7 linked regions of the Homo sapiens genome follow. The protein of the gene in region 2 purifies or fractionates together with the protein of the main gene of each other region. This does not show direct contact. Each region holds a gene or a part of one and is shown on either strand. Other genes may lie near its edges. The genes, in order: ZNF454, ABCD3, RTRAF, SLC39A12, AGPS, NDUFS4 and NNT.

Evidence for each region.
Region 1: the proteins of ABCD3 (region 2) and ZNF454 fractionate together in Homo sapiens (co-fractionation; one large-scale study listed by BioGRID). This does not show direct contact.
Region 3: the proteins of ABCD3 (region 2) and RTRAF purify together in Homo sapiens (tandem affinity purification; one study listed by IntAct). This does not show direct contact.
Region 4: the proteins of ABCD3 (region 2) and SLC39A12 purify together in Homo sapiens (co-immunoprecipitation; one large-scale study listed by IntAct). This does not show direct contact.
Region 5: the proteins of ABCD3 (region 2) and AGPS fractionate together in Homo sapiens (co-fractionation; one large-scale study listed by BioGRID). This does not show direct contact.
Region 6: the proteins of ABCD3 (region 2) and NDUFS4 fractionate together in Homo sapiens (co-fractionation; one large-scale study listed by BioGRID). This does not show direct contact.
Region 7: the proteins of ABCD3 (region 2) and NNT fractionate together in Homo sapiens (co-fractionation; one large-scale study listed by BioGRID). This does not show direct contact.

What each region holds. Positions count from the first base shown.
Region 1 is NC_000005.10:178,939,839-178,943,997, forward strand, and holds the start of ZNF454 (zinc finger protein 454), read left to right. Parts: upstream 1-1,359; 5' UTR 1,360-1,606; intron 1,607-2,846; 5' UTR 2,847-2,953; coding exon 2,954-2,986; intron 2,987-4,159. UniProt on the Homo sapiens protein: May be involved in transcriptional regulation.
Region 2 is NC_000001.11:94,487,889-94,491,388, forward strand, and holds part of ABCD3 (ATP-binding cassette sub-family D member 3), read left to right. Parts: intron 1-3; coding exon 4-95; intron 96-1,836; coding exon 1,837-1,928; intron 1,929-2,014; coding exon 2,015-2,087; intron 2,088-3,295; coding exon 3,296-3,359; intron 3,360-3,500. UniProt on the Homo sapiens protein: Broad substrate specificity ATP-dependent transporter of the ATP-binding cassette (ABC) family that catalyzes the transport of long-chain fatty acids (LCFA)-CoA, dicarboxylic acids-CoA, long-branched-chain fatty acids-CoA and bile acids from the cytosol to the peroxisome lumen for beta-oxydation.
Region 3 is NC_000014.9:51,999,546-52,003,045, reverse strand, and holds part of RTRAF (RNA transcription, translation and transport factor protein), read right to left. Parts: intron 3,339-3,500; coding exon 3,250-3,338; intron 1,249-3,249; coding exon 1,180-1,248; intron 1-1,179. UniProt on the Homo sapiens protein: RNA-binding protein involved in modulation of mRNA transcription by Polymerase II. Component of the tRNA-splicing ligase complex and is required for tRNA ligation.
Region 4 is NC_000010.11:17,975,918-17,979,417, forward strand, and holds part of SLC39A12 (zinc transporter ZIP12 isoform 1 precursor), read left to right. Parts: intron 1-1,984; coding exon 1,985-2,157; intron 2,158-3,500. UniProt on the Homo sapiens protein: Uniporter that promotes Zn(2+) import from the extracellular space to the cytoplasm across the cell membrane. The transport activity is temperature dependent. May play a role in neurulation and neurite extension.
Region 5 is NC_000002.12:177,391,473-177,395,572, forward strand, and holds the start of AGPS (alkyldihydroxyacetonephosphate synthase, peroxisomal precursor), read left to right. Parts: upstream 1-1,300; 5' UTR 1,301-1,317; coding exon 1,318-1,577; intron 1,578-1,582; exon of another isoform or gene 1,583-1,652; intron 1,653-4,100. UniProt on the Homo sapiens protein: Catalyzes the exchange of the acyl chain in acyl-dihydroxyacetonephosphate (acyl-DHAP) for a long chain fatty alcohol, yielding the first ether linked intermediate, i.e. alkyl-dihydroxyacetonephosphate (alkyl-DHAP), in the pathway of ether lipid biosynthesis.
Region 6 is NC_000005.10:53,644,139-53,647,638, reverse strand, and holds part of NDUFS4 (NADH dehydrogenase [ubiquinone] iron-sulfur protein 4, mitochondrial isoform 1 precursor), read right to left. Parts: intron 1,407-3,500; coding exon 1,234-1,406; intron 1-1,233. UniProt on the Homo sapiens protein: Accessory subunit of the mitochondrial membrane respiratory chain NADH dehydrogenase (Complex I), that is believed not to be involved in catalysis. Complex I functions in the transfer of electrons from NADH to the respiratory chain.
Region 7 is NC_000005.10:43,658,680-43,662,179, forward strand, and holds part of NNT (NAD(P) transhydrogenase, mitochondrial), read left to right. Parts: intron 1-491; coding exon 492-671; intron 672-3,500. UniProt on the Homo sapiens protein: The transhydrogenation between NADH and NADP is coupled to respiration and ATP hydrolysis and functions as a proton pump across the membrane. May play a role in reactive oxygen species (ROS) detoxification in the adrenal gland.

The sequences.
Region 1 (4,159 bases), on a different chromosome or scaffold from region 2:
CACCCTAACCCCTAACAGTAGTGTTATCACTACCAGATAAATACTTTCTACTTGTCTGACCCCTCCTCTAGTACAATTAAAACTCCATGAGTGCAGGGTTTTCACAGCTATTTCTCCAGCCCCTGGACTCGGGGTTCTTACTCTCTGGAGCCCAGTTTGAGTGACCTGGAGTCACGAGGGAGGCGAGAGAGAAGGGTTACCAGCGATACTCACACAACATCCTCCCCCTCTGGTGCTTTGCCGGGTCCCTGGGAACTGCTACAGGGGCTGCACAGCGGCTGACCCTGGCCTTGTCAAGCACTTGACACATAAGTGCTCCAAAGTGTCTATGGAATGAAATCTTCAATAAAACTCCAAACAGAATGCTGTAGTCACTGACACTGCTTCCTAAAACGTGGCCAACAATTCCGTATGTGACAAACAGGTCACATTCTTGATTTTTTTTAACGACCAACAAAGTTAAAACCCTCTCATCTTTCCTTCCTGAGCTCCATGCAAATTACCTATTCAAAAGCAACTAAGTATCTCCAGTTGGATATTCTTAGGCATCATCTCATCCTTGCCAGTCTCTGCAAAATATGGTCGACAAAAATAAATACCACCTTCTTAAATACCACCCAGCTGTCCAAGATGGAGACTTCCTGGCATCCAGGCGCCTTCCTCTCCCTCGTCCCCACCTCTGAGAAGTTCCCAAGCACGAAGTGTTCTGCGTCCCGAACATTCCAGGGGCCGCCAGCCACCATGGGCTCTGTCCTGAGGTGCCAAGCAGGACATCCCTGCCCGACATCCTTGTCCTCCCGCACCGCACACGCGTTAGTGGCTGTGGCGTCGCCACCCCAGCACACGCTGGCCCGCCCGCAGTGCCAGGCTGGAAGTGTCGGGCGCTTGCCAGGCCAAGGGGCAATTCTGTTGCCTTCCAGGCCTTTTCGGCGCGGTCCCAGTCAGGAACGCGCCCTGTCGCCTCCCACTCCGTCTTCCGGACCCTCCCGATCCTCTCTCGTCAGCGATCGGGCGTCGCTCCCCTGGACTAACCTCCCTTGCCCCATCTTCAGCTTTTCGCTGATCTGCATCTTCCTGCGCCTTAGTGCAAGGCAGAGACCTGGTTCTAAAGCGAACGGAACGGAACCGATTCTGTAAGTTGCAATGAGCGCGCTGAGGTCGGCGTGGAGGGGTCTCTGGGAAAGGTAGTTTCCGCGCCTAAAGCGCCGGGGCCGGGCCCTGTTCCCGCAGGCGCAAGGCAGCACTGTCTCCGCCGATTGTCCCTCTGGGAAGTGGAGTCTGGCCGGCGGAACTGCAGCAGCCCTGAGACTTGTGGGAATTCGGCCCAAGGGTTCCCAGGGCAACGCGCAAGCGCAGTTCGGCTCCCGGCTGCAGACTCCAGCTCATTGTGTTCTGACTGCGATGTGGCGCTTGCGATCTCTCGCCGCCGGCAGAGGCTCCTCGAAGAGCGACACGGGGCTGACCAGGCACGGTGGTCAAAGCCGCAGAGGGAGAGCGGGAGCGGTCGTGAGGTCGTCTGGGGAGAAGGGCGGAGGCAAAGCCGAGGAGGTGCGGGTTGTGGTCCATTCTGGAGGACGCTGATCGAATGCCCCAAACTTCCCGGAATGTATGTCTGAGATTTGATCCCAGAGAGGGAGGACGGCCAGGGGTGGTCATCCTGGGCTGAGGGTCGAGTCTGTGAGTGCCTGTGGAGGAGATGGAGCCAGGGCCTCTGGCATGTGTCTTGGAGCGGACTCCGAGAAGCCCAGGGTTTCCTCTCAGGTGATAGATACACGCCTGGCGTGGTTCCGAGTCCTGCGCCAGGAACTCGCCAAGGCCGGAGGCAGCCGCTGCGCAGCCCCTGCCACAGCCCCCGAGGGACCTGGCGAAGCGGCAGGGGCGGGACGGGGCTGTGTGTGATTAGGGTTCCTAACCCTTCCCTCTCCCCTCCCGCCCAGCTCACACAAACGCCGCTTCTGCCCACCCGTGACTCCAGGCCACCCAGACTGGGCCCCAGAGAGTGAGAACACTGAGGCCAGAGAAGGGTTTGCCTGAGAGGCTTCGACAGTGAAGAGCCTTCTTAGCCTCCTTTCTGAGGAGGAAGAAGACCACCCTCCTTTTCCTCTTCTCCTGTCACTGCCAGATAAGGCAGCTGTTCCAAAGCCGCAGAGGGAGAGCGGAGCGGTCTTCCAATCCAGTCGAACCCAGACACTGCCCTCCGTTGCCTCTCCCCAGCGCTCCCACCTTTTCGGGTACATCCTGGTGGGTTCTGGAGCTGAATAACTTGTTAAAGAGATAATTCTCGGCCGAGTGCGGCGGCTCACGCCTGTAATCCCAGTACTTTGGGAGGCCGAGGCGAGCCGATCACCTGAGGTCCGGAGTTCGAGACCAGTCCGACCAACATGGTGAAATCCCGGTCTCTACTAAAAATATAAAAAATTAGCCGGGCGTGGTGGCGGGTGCGTGTAATCCCAGCTACTCCGGAGACTGGGGCGGGAGAATCGCTTGAACCCGGAAGGCGGAGGTTGCAGTGAGCCAAGATCGTGCCACTGCACTCCAGCCTAGGTGACAGAGCGAGACTCTGTCTCAAACAAACAAACAAAAAAAGAATTCTCTTGAGATCGCTCAGTGAGGCTGAAGGGAAAGACCAGAGGGTGGGTGGAAGGCATGAGAACTGGACCTGGAGCAGGCTTTCTGCAGGGAAAAGTCAATGTATAGTACCCTCAGAAGGAGGAGAGAGAATGGGGAGCAAACAGGAACCAAAACACTCACTGCTTGGGGTACTGGAGGCCTCCCAGGATGTGAATGCTCACTGCCTCGCTCTGGACTGCTGTATGAGAGCTTTTGACCCAGTTCTCTCCTAATAGCAGGTGTGTGGACCCTTCTAGCCTGAGGAGTCCTGCAGGTGTGAAGCTCCACACCTGCCTCCATAGCACTTTGCCTGTCCCTAAGAGGGCTCATCGGAGAAGAAAGAATGGCTGTCAGCCACCTGCCAACCATGGTCCAGGTGAGTGGGGGTTTCTTCCCCCTAAATTGCTTTCTGGATTTGAAGAGTGTGGCATGTTTGCTTCCTCAGACCGGGAGCTTTATTCCCAATCCAGTCCCACCCAGACACTGACCTCAGTTGCCTCTCCCCAACCAACACCCTCCAACCCCGCCCCATATCCGGCTCATCCTGGTGGGTGTTGCAGCTGTATAACTTGCTAAAGGTCACATAAATGTCACAGCTGGGACTGGAACCCAGGTCCCTGTGAAATCAAAACCTGTACTCTTTTCACTAGCAAGTAAGATTAGGGATCTGAAGTGGTAAAAGCATGTATTAGTCCCTTTTTACATTGCTCTAAATAAATATCTGAGGCTGGGGAATTGATAAGAAGTTTAATTGGCCCACGGTTCTGTAGGCTGTACAGGAAGCATGGTGTCAGCATCCACTTCTGATGAGGACTTTAAAAGCTTCCAATCATGGCAGAAGGTGAAGGGGGAGCAGGTGTATCACACGGTGAGAAAGGGAGCAAGAGAGAGAAGTGGGAGGTCCTAGACTCTTAAACAACTGGATCTCACGTGAACCAACTGAGCGAGAATTCACTCATCACCAAGAGGATGGCACTAAGCCATTCACGAGGGATCTACCCCCATGATCCAACACCTCCCACCAGGCCCCCCCTCCAACATTGGAGGTCACATTTCAACAGGAGAGTTGGAAGGGACATACATCCAAACTATATCAGGGCAGTATCTCACACAGAGCTCAAAGAAGGGCATTGTAGGAACACTTTTCTGGGGAGGTGTGATTTACTAGACTCTTTTTCTTTTATGACATTTGGTTTTTTTACCAATGAAATTATTCAAAAGACTATTCTGCCAAAAAGTCCTATAAATTCCTAAAACGCTTTGAGCAGTCCTAGCATCTTTAGAATAAGAATATGGGCCAGACGCGGTGGCTCACGCCTGTAATCCCAGCACTTTGGGAGGCCAAGGCCAGCGGATCACGAGGTCAGGAGATCGAGACCATCCTGGCTAACACAGTGAAACCCCGTCTCTACTAAAATTACAAAAAAAATTAGCTGGGCGTGGTGGTGGGCGCCTGTAGTCCCAGCTACTCGGGAGGCTGAGGCAGGAGAATGGCGTGAACCCAGGAGGCGGAGCTTGCAGTGAGCCAAGATTGTGCCAGTGCACTCCA
Region 2 (3,500 bases):
AAGGATTACTACCAAAGTGGAAGAATGCTTTTGCGAATGTCTCAAGCTCTGGGTCGAATAGTTTTGGCTGGGCGTGAAATGACTAGATTGGCCGGGTAAGATTAGTAATAATGAGCTGTTGCAGAAAATAATTTTTAAAAATATATTATCCTTAATGATTGTATCAGTTGAGATTAAGATAAGGGGTCAACATTTCCTAGCCCAGGAAGGTGGTTTTGATAGAAAATTAAGGAAGATTTTTCTGATGGTGAACTTTTCATGTTTCTTGAGGACAGCTGGTTTGCGCAGTACAGTAGATTAGAGGCTGTCAAGTTGTTTGCTCCATGGACACGTATTTGCTAAGTTGGGAAATGTTGAATCATGGCAGTCTTAATTCACAGAAAACTATGTTTATGAATAGAATTTTCTCATTTAAATTTTCTTGTCCTCTACCATACCTTTTTTTCTTGGATCTTAGATACCGGCAACCTAGCAAAACAGATGAATAGAAATGAAGTTGACTTTAATGGGAAAAAAAATGAGATGTTATCTTGTATCTGTAGGCGTGCTTGTGAATGTAGTCATATTATCTAGTAGTAAAATTATCTTTAGACAGTAGAATGAAATTAAATATTAAGATTTCAGTATTTCAATCTCCAATATAAAGGGCATGGTATGGTGTAAAAAACACCATAAATTTTAGGTCACCTGAAGAAGTTTGATGACTGAATATCTTTCCTAGGCCTGTGATCCATCTTCATATTTCTCTTTTTCCTCCTTCTTAGCTCCTGTGGCAGTTATGGTCTTCATGCAATATAGAAGTTGTTAACTACTATGAGTAGAGTCTCTTTCATGAGAATACTAACATTCTTCCTACTTGTTAACTTTTCTTATGGCTTTACAGTTCATGGTATATAAGGTGCTTCTGTTCCTTTAGGGTGTTTCCTTTCACTCTCTCTCTCTCTCTCGCTCTCTTTCTGTGTGGGTGTGTGTGTCTTTCTCTTTCACTCCCTCCCTTCGTCTCCCTGCCCCCCTTTCTTTCTCTTTTTTCCACTTTGTTGAGGTATGATTGACATATAAGAAACTGTTCATATTTAGTGTATACAATTTGATGAATATGGGAATAAGTTATACACGTGTGAAACCATCAAGACCATAAACATTCATCACCTCCCAAAGTTTGCTTTAGGAGGTTTCTGCTTTTTATTCAGAGAAAAATCCTGTTTTCTTCTTCGATGCAGAATACTTTCTCTTTGGCGATCATGGTCATTTTTGTTATCTCCAACCTCTTGTCGTTAGTTTTGATTTTTCTCTATTGCCACAGTGATTTCTATCTAATAATAAGAACTCATCATCTTTCCCCTCTTCAGAGTAAGAAAGAGGGAATCTTTCAGATTCTTCCGTTTGCAGGAAGGCAGCATGCATTCGGCATACATTTAATAAATGCCTTCCTTGGATAGAAAGACCAGCTTTATACATGGCTTTATAGGTCACTTCAGCAAGAGATCAGAGTCCATACTTCCTGGGTCTAAGGAATATACTAGTAGTGGTCCTTTTGTAGTATCCAAGAGAAACCTCCTGAAAATTCTCAGCAAATAACTGCCTTGACTTGGCTATTAATGAAGTATCTGTTGAGTTGGGGATCCTATGGAAACCTCTTCCTTCATCCCTATATTCCTGCTCTCCTACTGAAACATAATAAAGCACACATGTTATCATTAATACTTTATGTTGATGAGACTGTTAGGTTACTTCATTTATACTAAATTATAATTTTAGGAACTTCAGTTTGTATAAAATAAAAGATGTGACAATAGTCTGGAGTTTTGATTATGGTTTCCTTTTCTAAAATTTTAGTTTTACTGCTCGGATTACAGAATTAATGCAAGTACTGAAGGATTTAAATCATGGCAAATATGAGCGCACAATGGTCTCACAACAGGAAAAGGGTAAATATGAGTGTCACAGTTTAAGGTCACAATTTTAAGTGTTTGCTGACATAATATGATGCTTTAATACCTATTTTCCATTTAAGGTATTGAAGGAGTACAAGTCATTCCCTTGATACCTGGTGCTGGAGAAATCATTATTGCAGATAACATTATAAAGTACGTACAGAAAAAGGTCTTTTAGCACCATAAATGTTTGTTAAACTTCATAGTAGTCTTTCTTTTTCAGCTTACAATTGCTTAGTGTTTAAAATTATTTCTGCTTTTTTAAAAAACAGCTTAGAGGTATCATTGACCTAAAAATTGTGTATATTAATATTTAAAGTATGCAACTTGATGCTTTGATATCTGTGTATGTTGTGAAATGATTACGTTTTGGCTAATTAATTTACCTATCGCCTCTACATAGTTAACCATTTTTGTGTGTGTTTAGTGAGAATTTAATTTAGATGTGTCTTAGCAAATTTCAGGTATACAATATAGTATTTTCTACTATTGTCCCAGTACAGTGGATCTACAGAATTTATTCTTCTGGCATCACTGAAATGTTGTGCCATTTGACCAATATTACCCCCATTTCCTCTCTCTCTAACCCCCTGGCAACCACCGTCCTACTCTCTACTTCTATGAGTTTGACTATTTTAGATTCCACATACAAGTAAGATCACATAGTGTTTCTCTTTTTGTGTCTTGCTTATTTTGCTTAGCATAATGTCCTCCAGATCCATCTATGTTGAAAATGGCCCAGTTTCCTTCTTTTTTAAAAGTGGGGTAATATTCTATTGTGTGTATTTTGTGTGTATGTGAATATATACACACTGTACACACTATATTTTCTTTATCCTCTCATCAGTTGAAAGACATTTAGGCAGTTTCCATATATGGACTATTGTAAATAATGCTGGAGTGAACATGGGAGGAAGATTCTCTTTGAGATACTGATTTTATTTCCTTTGGAAATGTTCCCAGAAGTGGGATTGCTAGATCATACGGTAGTCCTAATTTTAATTTTTTGAGGAACATCCATATTGTTTTCCATAATAGCTGTACTATTTGTAGTCCCACCAACAATGTACAAGGTTTCCTTTCTCCACATCTTTGCCAACACTTACCGTTTGTCTCTTTGATAATAGTCATCCTAACAGGTGAGAGGTGATGTCTCATTGTGGTTTTGATTTGCATTTTCCTGATGACTGAGATGTTGAGCACCTTTTCGTATGCCTGTTGGCCATCTGAATTTCTTCTTTTAAGAAGTGTTTAAGCTCTTTGCCCATTTTTTAATCAGGTTATTTGTATTTTTGGTATTGAGTTGTATTAGTTCCTTATATACTTTAAAGTAATTCTCTTTTTAAAAATTTCCTCTATAGGTTTGATCATGTTCCTTTAGCAACGCCAAATGGAGATGTTTTGATCCGAGACCTTAATTTTGAAGTAAGTTTTTAAATGATCATATAAAAGCTTAAATCATCTTTAAAATGTGAACTGAAAAAGATTACCTGAATATTTAAAGTAACTTTAAGGCTCGACTTAGTCTCTGAATCCACAGAATTGCTTTAAAAAGTAAGTCTTTGA
Region 3 (3,500 bases), on a different chromosome or scaffold from region 2:
ACTGCCTTCCAAAGCATAGTTTTGCTGAAGGAATGAATGAATGAATGATTGACTTTATTACACCAGAACAATTTACTGTCTGTTCTATAGGGAGGGTGAAATAAGCTGATCTTTAACCCAACTTCCAGTGGCTCGATTCATATACAACGAGCCAGTAAGAACCTTTAAAAGAAAACAGTGTCTTTCAGAGATACTGCCCTGGCATTAGTAACCTTTTAACACTGCTTGGCCTGCCTAAAGGGGCTGGAGGACAAAAGGCATTGGGAGATGGGGGAAGGGCGCAGGGAGGACAAACAACATAGTTGTGCCCAAGGCATTCACTACAACATCATTGCTGCAGGAGGCAGGTGTTATCAGACACTGCTGCTGCTGACCTGAGGACAGTCTCTCCACCGCTGCACAGCCAGTGAAACTTTAGGCATCTTTGGATTTCTGATATAATCTAAAAATGTTCCATATTTTCTCTTTAAGGGGAAGGTAGTCATGGGATATAGCTTTTCTCAGCCTACAAGGTAGGACTGAAAGATACCATTTCAGTCACCTGTACCTTGAACCTTACACTCCAACAGAACCCCCTGTCCCTTCACCTGGGCAGACTGACAAGCTCATGCAGACATCCACGCATGGACCCTTCTCCCCACCTACCGTAAGAGCACAGGCTCTCAAGTCAGACTGCCTGAGCTCAGTCACTTACCAACTAGGTGACCTTAGCCAAATTACTTTCTCATGTTTTATGCCAGGAAATTGAATAAAACAAGAATTTACTCTGAAGAAATAAGAGCAAGGATAGAATTTAGATAGAAAAAGAAAACTAATTTGTAGTGAGGTGTGTTCCTTCTTCTCCAGCATGAGTCAAAATAATCCAGTAAGTTTCATATGGGTAACTCATTTTAAATAAACTTCAACGGGCCACAAGCATGATTTGTGGACTGTGCATGAGCTATTTGTGGCTTTTTTAAGGTACAAAGTGAGAGGAACATGAAGTTTTTCACTCAAAAATGACCCCCTAGCCACTGAATACATTCAATTTGCTTTAGGAAGCACTGAAGTAAGCTATCCTTTCTCTAAGTTGTAGAACGTAGAATGGATATCTTAAACAGATACATGCAAAGTTTAAAATCACGGCCATACCAGAAGAAATGTTCATTAACAACTTATTTAGGATTTATAGAAACGTACCTCTTTTGTTTGATTTGCCTTAGCAACTGCATCCTGTGTCAGGCGCTCCTGAACCAAAATCCGAATTGCCTAAGAAACCCAAAAATATTTTTACTTTTTATAGGCTGTGTACCTGTCATCCTTTCTTCTATGAGCCCAGAGAATAAGGATGCTCATTTTGATGAAGTCAGAATTACCTAAGTTCATTAATAAACTCCCCATTAAATTAAAAATAAAAAAAACCCACTAATATAACGTAACCTTTCACACTTCTAGTATTTTAATAATGTTGAATGGTGCTTGCAACAATTAAAACCATTTTTTGAATAGGTAATGCACGTGACTGGTAAAAAACAACTTTAAATACAGCAAGACACATGGTAAAAAGTAGGTCTCCTTCCTACCTGAGCCTTGCGATCCCCTACAGATTCCTTACCCTCACTAAAACTGCGAAATGACGAGCATGCTTAGCACGAATACACATTTTTGACACAAAGGGTAGCAGATCATACATACTGTCTTACACTTTGCTTTTATCACTTCACTCTAGTAAAATATTTTCAAACCTTTCAAAGGACACCGTTGGTGGTTTTAATCACCAAGGCATTTCATTATGGTAGGCATGCATGCAAGTATCCATACACACTTAAAAATCAAATTTTAAAAAAATGGAATTTTAATTAGGAAGATGACAATTACAACTCAAAAATAAGTGTGAAAACTTAAACTATAATTTTTAAATAAAAAACCAAATGCTATCTTTGAAAAACCGAATTCAAACAATGTTTAACAGTTATTGCAGATGTTATTAAATAGTCTGGTTGCCAAACAGTTAATATACTGATGCTTGTACTTGGCAAACGTACTAAGATGTTTTCCATATTATGTTATTGTTTGAATGCCTCTTAAAATAACTCAAAAGGGACAAATGTGCAGCAGGACTAGAATTTTATAGCATTTTGTTGTAGTTGATTTATACTTTATCCCCTTGGGTTTTGAAGTCTAACAAAAGCATCCCAAATACGCTATGCATTGTCTGACTCTCCTCTCACTTACTTTATGATTAAAGCTGACATGATCACTATAGAACAGTTCCAAGGCAATTTACATAATTGTCGGAATAAAGAACAAGCCTTTGAAATAGCTAAATTTCACTAAAAACATTTTTGTCTTTTGGCATGCAATCTGGATTGAGAAAATCCAAGTTAACATTCAGATTCAGTATAGAAAATTTTAATAACTTAGGAATACAACAGTCTTGTTAAAACTGACATTTAATAATAAAAATCTAAAAAGCATGGTAAGTTATGGCTTAATCTCTTCTGGGTAGAGTGATATTTATCACAAAGTAGTTTACATGCACAAGGTCTAGTTAAAAGCTTTTAATCTCTTATAAAATTTCCAAGTCTGGTATCTTAAGTACCACTCCCCTGATCCACACCACTGTACTTTCACGATTACTAGGAATAAATCTTCTGAAGTTTATGATTTCTCTCAGAAACAAGAGACCTCTTTCAGATTACTGGGATTCCTGAAGTATAGTTATGAACTGAGTGGCCTATCTAGCATCGGGGACAGAAAGATTCATTTCTCAAAGAGATTTTGGGGTTATATATTTTTGACCAAATTCACCATTACTCATTTGGCATTTTCGACCATCTTAACAAATGCAGACTATGAATCATTAAAAAGACTAACTAAACAGAAGTAGGGTAATGTGGGAAAAACAATGGACCACAGGGTTATAGTGCTTAAAATCCTGGCTCTGTCATTTTCTGTGTCATCTTAGACATTATCCTCATTGAGTCTCAGTTTCTTCATATGATATATATTTTTAAAAAGATATTAGCAGCTGTCTCTAGGATTGTTGGCAGGATTGAATGAGAACATCTTTGCAAAGGATTTAGCATAGTGCAGGCAGAAAACAGAATCCAAATCAGATAAAACCATGAAATCTACTTTATGTTTCATATTCTTCTGTGTATTTTAGTCATTCAACCATAATTTTAATATCAATAGTTAATATTTAGAAAATAAAGACATTTTTCTATGTGCACAGTTTCTGTCAAGAATCAAGAACATGAAGCTGACCTTAAGCATTACCAGGTAATCATCATGACGCTGAATCTGAAGCAGGTTAGCCAAAGCCATCACACCAGCCTTAAAATCAGGATTATTTACTATAAAAGATTAAAAACAAACAAAAACTTACAACCCTGCAAACGTATAATTACAAACATATTTGTGAACATACAAAAACATTTTTAACTTTTCGGTAGCAACAAATCTCTTAGTTTTTAAAACTGCTACTCACAAGAGAAAAAAGAAAGCCCTGTAGACTA
Region 4 (3,500 bases), on a different chromosome or scaffold from region 2:
GTTTGGTCCTGTTTTCCTTTCTGCTTTAACAGGACAGCATTGAGTTCAATGCCTCAAAATTGCCATGCCCCCCTACTGTCAGCACCCAGAGATGCTCTCTGCACCACACTGCTGCTACTGGGGAGGTGGGAGAGGGGTGACATCAGAGATTCAAGACTGTTTTTTCTGCCTCTTCAGTGCCTATTTCAGTAATATGAAGTTAAAACCAGGTATAACGAGGGCTCACCTGAATTTTAGTTTGTATGAAGGTGCTTTTCTTGTGTAGATAGTTGTTAAATTGGTGTCCTTGTGGGGAGATGATTGGTGGAGGCTTCTATTCTGCCATCTTACTCTGCCTCCTCCAGTTTTTTTCTGTAGCTCTTTGAATATATCATTTCACTACCCTTCTGTCCCCCATTATTTAGATAAGAAATCAGCCATTAATTGTAGTGATGCTCCCAGGTAGGTGATGAGTCATTTTCTTTTGCTGCTTTCAAGATTTTATCTTCTGTTGTAGTTGTTGTTTTTTGTTTTTGTTGGTACAGATTCTCACTCTGTTGCCCAGGTTGGAAGTGCAGTGGCGCCATCTCAGCTCACTGCAACCTCCACCCTCTGGATTCAAGCGATTCTCCCATCTCAGCTTCCTGAGTAGCTTGGATTACAGGTGCCTGCCACCACGCCTGGCTAATTTTTATATATATATTTTTTTGTAGAGAAGTGGTTTCACCATGTTGGCCAGGCTGGTCTTGAACTCCTGACCTCAGGTGATCCACCCGCCTTGGCCTCCCAAAGAGCTGGAATCACAGGTGTGAGCCACCACGCTGGTCCTCAAGATTTTATCTTTGACTTTCAGCAGTTTGACTGTAATGTGTCTGGGTGTGAATCTTTTTGTATTTATCTTACTTGATGTTTGATATGCTTCTTGAACACGTATGTTCAGGCTTTTACATCAGATTTTGAAAGTTTTGGCCATTATTTCCTCTAGTATTTTTTCTAATCCTTTCTCTTTCTCCTTTCTCTGACTGCTAATATATATACATTGGTATACTTGCTCTTGTTACAAGTCTGTGAACACTTGTTCTTTTTCTTTTTTCTTTCTGTTCTTTAGAATGAATTATTTCTGTTAATCTATACTCATGTTCAGTGATTTTTTTCTTCTGCCCTCTCAAATATGCTGTTGAGTTCCTGTAGTGAACTTTTTGTTTCACTTATTGTCTCGATATTCTTAAACTCCAGAATTTTCATTTGGACATTTATATAATTTAGATTTCCTTATTAAAAATTGCTATTGATTTTTTATTGTCAAACTTTCCTTTAATTCTTTAAATATAATTTCTTTTAGTTCCTTAAACATAATATTTCCTTTAAAGTCTGTATTTGCTGAATCCAACATCTGGAAATACTGAGATGTATTTATTGACTGCTTTTTTTTTTTCTACCACTGTTGATAACACTTAGGAAAATTCTGTTTTAATCATAAGTAAGAAGATGTATAAATCCATATAAATTTACTGTTATGTTTATTTCTTCTTTGTACACATTATTTTTTAAAAGCCTAGAGCTATACTGAGGGAAACTAATCTGTGATCTTTAAATTGACTGCCATACCATAGTTGCATTAGAAAACAAGATCTAGTTTGTTTCTAGAATCTTATCTCCCTTTCACGGCTTTTCTTTCTTTTGCATATACACTTAAAAGGAAAACAATTTGATTGACTTAACTAAAGTAATAATTAATCTATGATGGATGTATAATGCCTCCAGGGAATAATTTCCTAAGGATTAGGCCAGTTTCATCTTTAATTTACATTTTTATAGAAAAAGAAAATCCTTGACGCAATGGAAGGCATTTTCGTGGGTGGAAATGTCCATTCTGTCATCTCTAGGGCTTAAAAAATGATAAGAATTCTTTGTAAGGGAATATCTATGCTGTAGCTATGTGAAATTGTGACTATTCGGAACTTATCTATTCTATGTGACACCAGATTTTATATGAAATTTCTAGAACTAGACCAACTCCTCAACACTCTCTGGACCAGAAGTACTTGTATCAAAAATGAGAAAATCCATCAATTTCAAAGGAAACAAAACAACATAATAACCCATGATCAGGACTATTCTAATTTCTCTTCATCCATGGAAAAAGAGTCTGAGGATGGTCCAGTTTCCTGGGATCAGGTATTGCCATTGTTTCTCTTATTCAAGCATTTGCTACTGTCAAAGGAAGCCCAGCTGTGAAAGTTTTATTAGAGTTGTAGAAAACTTAAAGAGTATTGTGTATTATCTTGAAAAGTAAAAATATTCTAGTTCCACCACGTAGTTACGGTTTTCTTTTTCTACAAGTGTATCTCTGTAGACATAAAAACAAAGCCAAGGTATATAGGGGAATGAAATATATTGCTTTTTCCTCCCTTGGGTTCAGATTGAGTGAATTAATAATTCAGAAAACATATTGAGCATTTTATGCACACCGCTAATCATCCTGGGCATGAGAGATACAATGTTGAACAAAAATAGGCACATATTTTTGCTATTATGTATCTTAAAAGTTATTTTCTGTTACCTCTGCCATGTATAATAGGAATCTGTTGAAGTTGACTCTTTCAGACTCATGTTTATTGTATTCAACTGCAGGTGACAAGAGTTGATCTCCATATTAATCCATGTTTGTGAAGTTTCCTTAATTAGGGCCAACTCTCAGGAAGAGAACAAATACGGTCTCTTCATGGAGACCTTATTTGAATAAAGAATAATTCATTTCTTAACATTTAGGGGTTACTTAAGGCATGCATCTTCTAAGAATGCCAATAATCATTTTCTGTGCAAAACACACACAACAACCTCTTCTCCAATAATTCTTCTCTGTTCCAACGTGTGACTTTCTTTGTGATTCTTGATGGTATCCTAACGTGGGACACCAGATTTGAGGACTCTGCCTATATTATTAGGTTGATCATTTTCCAAGGGTTGTGCCTGGGCCTTTCCAAGGGCTGTGGGCAGCAGCAGTACCACCTGGGAACTTGTTGGAAATGTACATCCTCAGACCCCAACCCAGAATCTACTGAATCATAAACCCCAAGTGTAGAGCCCAGAACTCTGTCTTTTAAGAAGCCCTGCAAGTAATTCTCAAAACTAAAGATTAGAAACCACTGCTTTTGAATATGTTTGTAAAGCTTCTGTAGAAATCTGATAACATCAACACAAGTACAAACATATTTCAAAATTACATAGGAAGGAATAAAGATGTTTTAAAGATTGTTGGCTGCATAACCTAAATTTTCATTTTCTTTATAAAAAATATGTTGTGTTCAAAATTTTATAGAATATAATGAGTCCCCAGTAAGGACATTTATGTTAGTGATTTCAGAAGAAATTTACTTAATGACCTAAATGGCACAAGAGCAGCAAGCGAAGACCAAGGGCGCAGAAGTTTGTAATAGAATAACCTTACTCTCTGAGAAGGTATTGTAAAACTAGAAACTATTCGACTTCTTGACAACAAACTGGAGAAAGATGCATGG
Region 5 (4,100 bases), on a different chromosome or scaffold from region 2:
CTAACCATTTCTCTGTTGCTAGACATTTGGACTGTTTTCAATGGTTTGGTATCTCTTCGTATATAAATTTCAGAAGACATTCGGACCTCCTGTAAAGGCCAGGTAATACATATTTTGGGGCTTCTGGGACCACATAAGGTCTCTGTTGCATATTCTTTTAAAAAATTTCTTGTTTTCTTTTAACAACCCTTCTCAAATACAAAAACCATTAGCATGAGGGCTGTGTAAAAACAGGCCACAGACTAGAGCTGGCCCTCCAACAGCAATTTGCTTAGCCCTTAATTGAGAGTTTTTAACCAGTCTGGGCCTCTTTGGAAGTTCACTCTAAAGGCATAATCTCAATTTTAGAAGCTGGCAACACCCAAGAGAGCAATTGTTAGTCTCTAGTCCCATGGATGTGGTGTTCTTCAGATTCCTCTGCCAATATTTTTCTTGTTAGGAAAGCATGATGTGAAAGTGGTGACAGGATGGAGAATGACAATGGCCAGTGTATGTGAGTTTTTGTCTAAGCTAATTCTTATGCAAGACACCGGCTGAAACAGGTGAGGAGCACTTTTCACGTGCTATCTTCCAGAAATGAATTCAATCTGTAAATAACTGAGATGTCTTCACAGCTCTTGGGTAATTTTTGTCTGTAGCAATAAGAAACTTTATCTCTATTAAAGTTAGGAAGGGGTTAGGATCCAGTAATGAATGAAATGAGAACTTAAGTTGCAACTCAGTTTCTGTACTTACTTGTGATCTAGCATTAAACACAGTGCCAGGCACGAAATAGGTGGTGAGAAATAAGAAAATGATAGAGCTATTTGCTCTAATGGTTAGAGGCAATGATGGTCAGCTTTGAGTTACTTTGGTGACCCCGCAGGGAGGAAGAGCACAGGTGGAACATTAGAATCTCTTTCAGGAAAAGGATGCCGCTGGATCCATCAGGTCCAGTAGCACTGCCCATTTCTCCTGCTCCAAGGCATCTGCCCTCGAAAGCCCCCAGGCCACACCCGAGGACACCACCCAGGGTTCTAGGACACCTCGAGGGCGGACGTGGTTTGGCTCTCGGTCCAGCTGGACCGGGCTGGGCCAACCGGGAGTCAGCTCGAACTCACCTGCTTGGCAGGTGCGCGCTTCCCGAGGCGTGACAAGGGAGCGCCGGCGCGGTGGGTGGGGGGCAGAGAATGTGAAGCTCCAGACGCATGGCACCCGCCGCCAAGTCGCCGCGGTGGCTGCCGGGATGCGCCGCAGCGAATGGTCGCGCCGGGCGCCGCTCTGAGTGACCTTTCACCCGCGCCCAGCGGTTCCGGGCGGCAGCACAAGGCGGTAGCCATGGCGGAGGCGGCGGCTGCAGCGGGTGGGACTGGCTTGGGCGCGGGCGCGAGCTACGGGTCTGCAGCGGACCGGGACCGGGACCCGGACCCGGACCGCGCCGGGCGGAGGCTGCGGGTTCTCTCTGGCCATCTGCTGGGCCGGCCCCGGGAGGCTCTGAGTACCAATGAGTGCAAAGCGCGGAGAGCCGCGTCGGCGGCCACGGCAGCGCCCACGGCCACTCCCGCCGCGCAGGAGTCGGGCACCATCCCAAAGAAGCGGTGAGTAGCGGTATGTGGAAGGAGTTAGCGTCGAGGGACCAGGCCGGGCCTGTGCTGCAGGAGGGCACAGGCGAGGTGGGAAGGGAAGTGACACGGGTGGGCGGAAGGCATCCCGGTCCCTGAAAGTAGGGACCCACCTCTCTTTCGAGAGAGTGGACTAGACCCTGGATTCTGTCAGGAAGGGGGCGGGATGGGATGGTGGATTTTGGTCACTATGTGAGGGTAACAGGCTTGAAGAACTCTCGTTGGAGAAGGGTTTAAAGGATTCCTTTTTCCTGAGCTTTTAGTGCCAGGAATTCATTTTTTATCTTGAATTAATACTTTTGGTGCTGAGGTCTTGGAATGGGTAGCAGAGGTTCTATTTTTCTCCGAGGAGATATAAATTTGTACTAGATGATAGATCATAGGAATCTCTCTCATTCGCGAAAGCCTGCTGTGGGGGAAACTGGTGGTGCCCTGGAAAAAGGTGCTGACTGGTTTCTGTGGGGTAAGTTCCACTTGCTTAGGATCAAGATGTATTGACTTTGAGGGAGGAAACCGATGAATGGTAAGAAGCCATAAACTGCAAACACTAGCTAGTGGTTTAAGGTGTGGTGGTATAGCTACTGAGCTCTGTGTAACCAGAAGCTAAAAGACAAGAGTCTAACCGATGAGGGATGTTTGTAAGAGATCTTGACTTTCGATGTTTTTGGAGAAATCTTTTTTTTTTTTTTTGTATTTTTAGTAGAGACAGGGTTTCACCGTGTTAGCCAGGATGGTCTCGATCTCCTCAATCTCTGATGAAGGCTATTAGGAGAAGCTACTTTCTGACGTGTGGCTTTGTCACCGTGGATAAATGGATAAACCGAGAGTGAAAAAAATAAGTAGCTAATGTTTAAAGTGTACTTTTAAGTGTGCCAAAGTGTGCTAAATCCTTTGTTTCTTCCCAAGCTATGAGGTATGTGCGGTTTTCTCCCATTTTACAGATGAATAAATTAAGTCTGCTGGAGTCTTAGCAGATATGCTGTGTGACAGGTTAGAATTTGAAAGCACATCAAATTGACTTCATGGCCAAGTTCCTAAGCTATACTTGCTTCTGATGAATTAATTCAACATACATGAGTCTTTACAAAATACACACTGTACCAGCAATACAGAAATTTAAAAATACGGTATTTACTCTTAAGGAAGGAATAGCTTAGTAGGTAAAATTATAATACAGCGTTATAAGAAACTTAACTGGGAACTATACCACCTGGTCATTTAACCCAGTTTTGGGTTTGTGTTTGTTAGTGCAAAGATGTTCCAAAGTAAAGATTGTCTGAGTAAATTTTGGATGTTTGCATTACTAATAGTTTGCCAAAGGGGGAAATTGTTCTTGGCATACAAACAGTATGTTCACAGGTAAAGAAGTGAGAGACAAATTAGGGAACTGCTGAGACTCAAGTGTAGTAGGAGAGGGTGAGAATGACAGGGGACGAAGACTGGAGAGGTGAATCTTGTTTACAGGATTTTACGTGGGGCAATACATGATTAGATTTACCTTTGATAAAGGTCACACTGGGAGCAAATTGAAGACAGTTGAGCATTTTGGCAGTATAATGGCTGGGAACATAGACCTGGATTTCAATTTCCACTACACCGTTACAGCTCTATGATCTTGGGCAAATCACTTAACCTCTGAGAGTTTCAGTCACCGTCATTTGTAAAAACGGGAACAGTAATCCTGTTTTGCAGTGTTGCTGTGAGAATTGAAAAAAATAGAGTTAAATGATCAAGTGTTTAGTGCAATGCCTGTTACATAACCTTTCAAAGAATGGTAGCTGCAATTTTCACAGTGTCTAAAGGCAGAGAGACTAGGAGACTATTATTCCAGGGAGAAATGCTGGGATTCTGAACTAAGGCATATTATTGGGAGTAGGCAACTTAATTGAGAAAATGCTAGGAGGTAAATTTTCCATAACTTGGTTACTGAGTGGTGGGGAGGGGAGGAATAAAGGATTTCATCTCGTCTCCTGGCTTCAATTGAGGTTATATTATTAATAGCTGTCATTAGGTTTAAAATTTTCTAAATGGTTTCATGTACATTTATGTGTTCTCATTTGTATGCATATATGTGATTGTACATTTTATGTAGATTCACACTCTTAGAACCAAGTAAGGAGGGCAGGTTTTCCTTATGGTTAGATTTAATGGCTTGGTTTACAGCATTCAGAGAAAAAATAGTAACGTTTGTAAGGCACACCAAGATGATGGTTGAAGGTGACTGGTCAGGGATGCCCTGTGTGGCTGCTCCAAGGACTGAAGGCATCGATAGTTCAGGCACGACTGTAACCCATTTGTTGCATAGGTTACAGCTGGTGGGAAGCCCTGGTCTTTGGTTCGGGGTTAGACGACTAGTGGTAAAATCTAGTCCTGTACTGGTACTTTGAGATTTTCATCAAAATATGAGGGAACACAGAAACTTGTATTAGATGACACATCAAAAGCTTCCACAGAGGGTGATATACTTGATAGATAATCATGAGGAACCCAAGTCTCCCT
Region 6 (3,500 bases), on a different chromosome or scaffold from region 2:
TTTAACTAGAATCAGCCCTCCTACTTAACATTTGGGCCCTATTCCATTATGGAGAATTAGGTCACTGACTTCATTAGTACCACAAGAATTTATTCCAATACACTGTTAAAAAGCAATTTAATGGCCAGGCATGGTGGCTCACACCTGTAATCTCAGTACTTTCGAGGCTGAGGTGGGTGGATCGCTTGAAGCCCGGAGTTCGAGACCAGCCCGGGCAACAAAGCGAGACTCCATTTCTACAAAAAGATAAAAAAAAATTGGCCAGGTGCTGTGGCATGCACCTATATTCCCAGCTACTTGGGGGATTAAGGTGGGAGGACCGCTTGATCATCCCAGAGTTCAGGGCTGCAGTGAGCTAGGATCACATCACTGCACTCCAGCCTGGGCAAGGGGGCAAGACCACATCTCTAAAGAAAATAATAAATAAAAATTAAAAGTAATTTATTATTATTTATTATTAATCACAATATCTCAGGAACTTATAAGTTTCCCTCAAGTTAGCTAATTTCTAAATTGACCTAGTTCCTACCCCCCTTACAAAGAAAAAAGATATATATATAATATATATTACAAAGAAGTTTATTGTAATTTTAAAACAAGTTAAAGTGTCACTATATTATAAACACCATTCTTACAGTATCTTGGATAAAACAGTATTCCCCCTTATCTGAGGGGGGACAAGTTCCAAAACCCCTAGTGGATGCTTAAAACCACGAATAGTATCAAATCCTATATTTTCCTAAACACATAGACCTATGATTAACTTATAAATTAGGCATAGTAAGAAATTAACAATAAGTTGTAATAAAATTGAACAATTATAACACTTACATACTATAAGAAAAGTTATATTAAGGGTAGTCTCTCTCTATCTCGAAATATCTTATTGTACTGTCCATCGGATAACTGAAACCGTAGAAAGCAAAACTGCAGATAAGGGGGGACTGCTGTATACATAGCTTTGAGTTCCATAACAGTGCTCTGAAATTCAGTCATTTTTATCTAGTAAGTAGTACTCTGAAAAAGACTATGTCATAGTTTACTGTGCTAAGCCACACTTATCTGAATATCTAAATATATAATGTGTATCTTTGAGCACAGTGGTACTTAACAGCGTCAAAAAGTACTGTCATAAGCATATTGTACATAAAAGAGTTTGAAAATCATATTTAGAAGAAAGATCTACATAGAAAAAGATAGCTGACAATATTCACATTAAAATAAAGTACTCACGTTGATGCCCAACCCATCAAAGGATTTTCCCATCGCTCTCTGGTATCAAACTCCATCTTCCATTTCTTTGTGTTGTTTACTCCAGACTGCATGTTATTGCGAGCAGGAACAAAGATCCTGACTTTTCTAGTTTTTATATGCTCTTCTGGAACTCCAGTTAAAGTAGTGATATCCTACAGAAAAACAAGAAAAAAAAACACGTTTCAAACAGCCTACATACACACTAATGTACTTTTGTTGTTTCCTATATTCATGCAACTCTATTCAGATTTGTTCATAAATTGAGATAAATTTTCTGGCTTATTTCACTACCATTCTGATACTTTACAATGTAAATTACTATTTAGATACCTGTAAATGGTTTATTTAGGGGGACGTAGTGGAGACAGTGGAAAAGGATCGTAAAAAAAATTTACGCCCTTTTGTCCAACAAAGCATTGGTATTTTCTGAAGAGACTGTTTGCTCGCAGAAGAGCCTGTAGTCAACAATGCTCTTACTTTGTGAGCAAGTGCGAACTAGTCAGAGGAGAAAAAATACAAAGGAAATATGAAAAGGGGATATAAAAAGTAAATCCTTATTTGCATGTTTATTTAAATCTTAAATAGAAGACAATCTGTTACTTATAATTTCTGTGTCAAATTGCTTACCCACAAGGCATTACCTTGAGAGGGAAACCTGAACCTTTTTGTAAAGTTGTAAATTTAACAACTTTAATTAGCATTGTGATGTATCTCCCCCCTTTGGTGAAACCTACTAAAGAGAGAATGATACAATCAAACACATTCTGCAAAAGTAATCCCAAAAAGTGGCATAATTTTTGCCAAAATGTGAGATGAAAACAATGGTAACTTTAACTCGATTTTTCTATAATTTTATCCAGTAACAAATGCTCATTTTGAAAATGCACAGAATTTTGATGCCCCAGAGTAGATACATTTATCAAAACATAGTAGCAGTCAGGACACAAATTAGTAAAGTAATTCAGAGTTTAAAACTTATTTATTCCTAGTGTTCCATTATTGGAATGCTAAGCATGTGGGAGTTATTTATATCCTACTGCTCAAGGCCATTGCCAAGGTCTGATTGCAAAAATTCTAAAAACTGCAACCTCAGACATAAATGGGTTAAATCTCCATTTAGTAATGGTAAAATACTTTATCTGATCAAAGTAAATCACATTGGGGTCAACCATATGCTTATTAATGAAGCATTTTAAAATCATGGTTCACTTACTAACGTAAATTTTGGATAACTTGGTAAAAACAAGAGTTAATATAAAAATGATTATACCAAATTTGTGAAAACTAGAAAACGTCTGTGAATTTTTATGTCATTATAATACACACCCTAATGAAGACTAATGTTTATTTGTAGTTTCAATCTATCAATGCTATGAACCAAATAACTGGCAAGAATACTTAGCTGGTAAGTATTCTTAGCTAGTACGTACTAGTGGGAAAAACACGAAACACATTTCTGACTTGACTATTATCTCTATCCACAAGATTAAAAACCAATTCTTTAAAGTTATTTTAGTTGGCAACCAATCCTCTATTTAACACAATACCTTTCCACCTGCGTCAATAATTAGGTGTGGCTACTTTGTCACAGCTTGTTTACAGAAACTATCAAAATTATCCATATAAATATTTACACAAATATGCACTTCTAATATGTGCCTACATTTACTTATTTTTAAAGTTTCCCTACATCTAGTTTAAAGTAAAAATGAGTGAAGCTGGCACATAATTTTTAAAGGTGTGAAATACTTTAATTGGTAATTTCTAATATTCAGGTTCAACTTCAAAAAAAGTTTAAGTATTATTATATTTAATGACTTCCTGAAGCATATATTCTCTATTTAAGAGCTTAAAGTGGCTCAACTCCTGGGAAGTCCTCAATGTTTAATTCCTCCTTTGAATTCACTGTAATACTTGCAATCTGCCATAGTAGTTTATTATTTAATATTATATATCTTTAGATTAATCTGTCTCGTTTCCTCAGCTACAGCTTAAGCTGGGTATAAACAAACACTATAAGCATGTTATAGAATTATGGGGTGGGGCATCTTTTCCAAATTCCAAAGCATCCCCTCTGTTCTGAGCTGAGCTCATAAAAGCTGGAGCTGTAAGTTATGTCTATTTTTAAAACTATATGAAAGGAAACACATTAAACTCTTAACACTGGTTACCTCAGGAAGATTAGAGGAAACACTTTTACTTTACCTACTTCTATACTGTGATGCATATATGCCAAAGTGATTAAA
Region 7 (3,500 bases), on a different chromosome or scaffold from region 2:
GGGACTCCTTCCCTCTAGCCTGCTTCTTTGTGGGATTCCCCTTATTACTTTCCAGCTGCCTTAGTCATCTCAAATGCTATCTTCAGGATCTTCAAGTCAGTAAGACTGTGGGCTTATATTTTATAATTTCCTTAACTGGTACCAACAGGGGATTGCCCTCAGTCTAAAGCCATAAAAACTGGGAAATTCACTTAGTGTCATTGTATTTTTCCAAATGTAGACGCTTCTCCAGTTTCTGCCTGCTTTTCATCACTGAAAAGTGTTTTTTTAAAATGTAGGGATTTTTTTTTAGGGGGGTGGGTGGCTCAGTGTTTATAGTTGTTATACCTGTGGAAGTGTTGGTCAGATGGGAGACACTTATTACCGGAAGTGGAACTTATATGTAAATATATTAATGGGAAAACTAGAATAATTAAGGAGCAAAATGTTAAATGTCAGAGGTTTTATTTTTATGTTATTAATTTTGAGTTCTGATTTGATTGTTGTTCTAGGGTGTGACTTTGACAGCTGCTATTGGGGGTGCTGACATGCCCGTCGTTATCACTGTGCTGAACAGCTACTCAGGCTGGGCCCTGTGTGCAGAGGGCTTCCTGCTCAACAACAATCTGCTGACCATCGTGGGTGCACTCATAGGCTCGTCTGGTGCTATCCTGTCATACATCATGTGTGTGGTAAGAAACAACACATACATGAAACAAAAGGAAATGGCTTCCTGAAAACATGGATGTGCATGTCATTTCTTTTATTACCCATAAAAATGAATATTGTAGGCTGGGCATGGTAGCTCACACCTGTAATCCCAGCACTTTAGGAGGCCAAGGCAGGTGGATCACGAGCTCAGGAGTTCAAGACCAGCCTGCCCAAGATAGTAAAACCCTGTCTCTACTAAAAATACAAAAATTAGCCAGGCGTGGTGGTGGGTGCCTGTAATCCCAGCTACTTGGTAGGCTGAGGCAGAGAATTGCTTGAACCCAGGAGGCAGAGGTTGCAGTGACTGAGATCATGCCACTGTACTCCAGCCTGGGTGACATAGCGAGACTCCATCTCAAAAGAAAAAAAAAAGAGTATGGTAGCTTTGAATTCTCTTCAGCAGACATAGCAGAGTATTTCATTTGCATAAATTTCCAAGACTGCCTTTAAGGTACCCAACTGTAAATAATTAGGAAAATTAAATAGAAAGATGAAAATCTTCTAGTGCCTCTCTCCATCTGGAGATAAACAGGTAAGATTTTGGTTTATTTCCTTATGTATGGCATATCTGTGTATTTACTTGTCTGATCGTGTTGTATATTGTCCTACATTTAAAAAAACTTATATACTATATTGTTGACTTTTTGTCATTAAAAATTCTTTTAAAATATTATTTTAAGAGACTTTATCGTGATCCATCATATGGATATACAAAATTTATTTAATTTGCCCTTAATGCTATACATATGAAGTTGTTTGATTTTGATTTCTCTTTGTACATATCTTTGACATTTCAGATTTTTGTCTTAAGATAGATTCCTAGAATTTATAGGCTCATTATACTTATAGCCATGTTTCTGGAAAGGTTGTTCTAATTTACACTCCTGTTGGTCATCTGTGAGAGTTTCTACCTTAGAAGTTTTGTGGTCAGCATGATGGTTTTTTAAAAGAACAGAAAAAAGTAACAACACTAATACTTCCTAGCTTTTCTGTTTGTTTCAAGTTCTCTTCTTGATGGCAAGAAGATGTTCTGCAAATATTATAATTAAAGGTTTGAGTAGAACTTTTTTTTTCAAATTATGGATGTTATTTTCTAAATAATAATGAAACTAAATGAAAGCAGAACGTGATTTTACACTGATAAATAATTTAGACAAGAAAGGGATCTGTATTAGTCCATTCTCACACTGCTGTAAAGAACTACCTCAGACTGGGTAATTTATGAAGTAAAGAGGTTTAATTGACTCACAGCTCCACAGGCTTAACAGGAAGCATGACTGTGAGGCCACAGGAAGCTTACAATCATGGCAGAAGGTGAATGGGAAGCAAGCACATCTTACCATAGCGGAGAAGGGGAGAGAGTGAAGGGGGATGTGCCACACACTTTTAAAGCACCAGATCTCGTGAGAACTCACTAGCATAAGAACAGCAAGGCGGAAGTCAGCCCCCATAATCCATCACCTTCCACCAGGTCCCCCCGTGGCATGTGGGGATTACAATTCGACATGAGATTTGGGTAGGGACTCAGAGCCAAACCATATCAGATACTTACTCTACCTTCATTCTTTTATTATAATATTTTAAAAAACTCGCTTATTTTACAACTCAGGATTTTTCTTATGATTTAACTGAAAATCTCATTGTAATTTGGAAGGCTGAAGTATCTTTTCATAGTAAAAAATATTTTTGTTTCTTAGGCTATATTGCAAAACAAAGGATTTGATAGCCCAAATTCAAAACAAGCTAAGGGGTTTTAAAATTAAATAGCCTAAATTACCTGGGGAATTTGGAAAGGTGAAGGTTTATGTATCCTATTTGAAAAGTGTCAGGCTTTGTGACAGAAAGAAGAAACATTTGTGAAGAAGAAATGTTTATGAAATTGTACTAGAAATACAGTTTTCTGTAAAAGTAAACTTTTAACCCTTAGTTTGATTTTGCTTCAGTTGATGAATTTGAATGACCAGCAGGGGGCAGCAGATTTTCATTATTACTTAAACTTGCGGTTTGTCAGAAAGTGGCTTTTATTTATTTATTTATTTATTTATTTATTTTTATTATACTTTAAGTTTTAGGGTACATGTGCACATTGTGCAGGTTAGTTACATATGTATACATGTGCTATGCTGGTGCGCTGCACCCACTAACTCGTCATCTAGCATTAGGTATATCTCCCAATGCTATCCCTCCCCCCTCCCCCCACCCCACCACAGTCCCCAGAGTGTGATATTCCCCTTCCTGTGTCCATGTGATCTCATTGTTCAATTCCCACCTATGAGTGAGAACATTCGGTGTTTGGTTTTTTGTTCTTGTGATAGTTTACTGAGAATGATGATTTCCAATTTCATCCATGTCCCTACGAAGGACATGAACTCATCATTTTTTATGGCTGCATAGTATTCCATGGTGTATATGTGCCACATTTTCTTAATCCAGTCTATCATTGGTGGACATTTGGGTTGGTTCCAAGTCTTTGCTATTGTGAATAGTGCCGCAATAAACATATGTGTGCATGTGTCTTTATAGCAGCATGATTTATAATCCTGTGGGTATATACCCCAGTAATGGGATGGCTGGGTCAAATGGTATTTCTAGTTCTAGATCCCTGAGGAATCAGAAAGTGGCTTTTAAAGTTAAATGGGAGGATTTGAAGGATTTGAATGTTAACAAAGCCTATGGCATGCTGATATGGGGAGAGGAGGGAAGAAGACTTGTTTCTAGTTCTTGAAATGTCAGCATGGGTAATTTCTCATTTTATCCTTTTTTAAAAATGGTTTTCTTTAGGTTTTTAAATTTATAAAGAGTATTCCCCA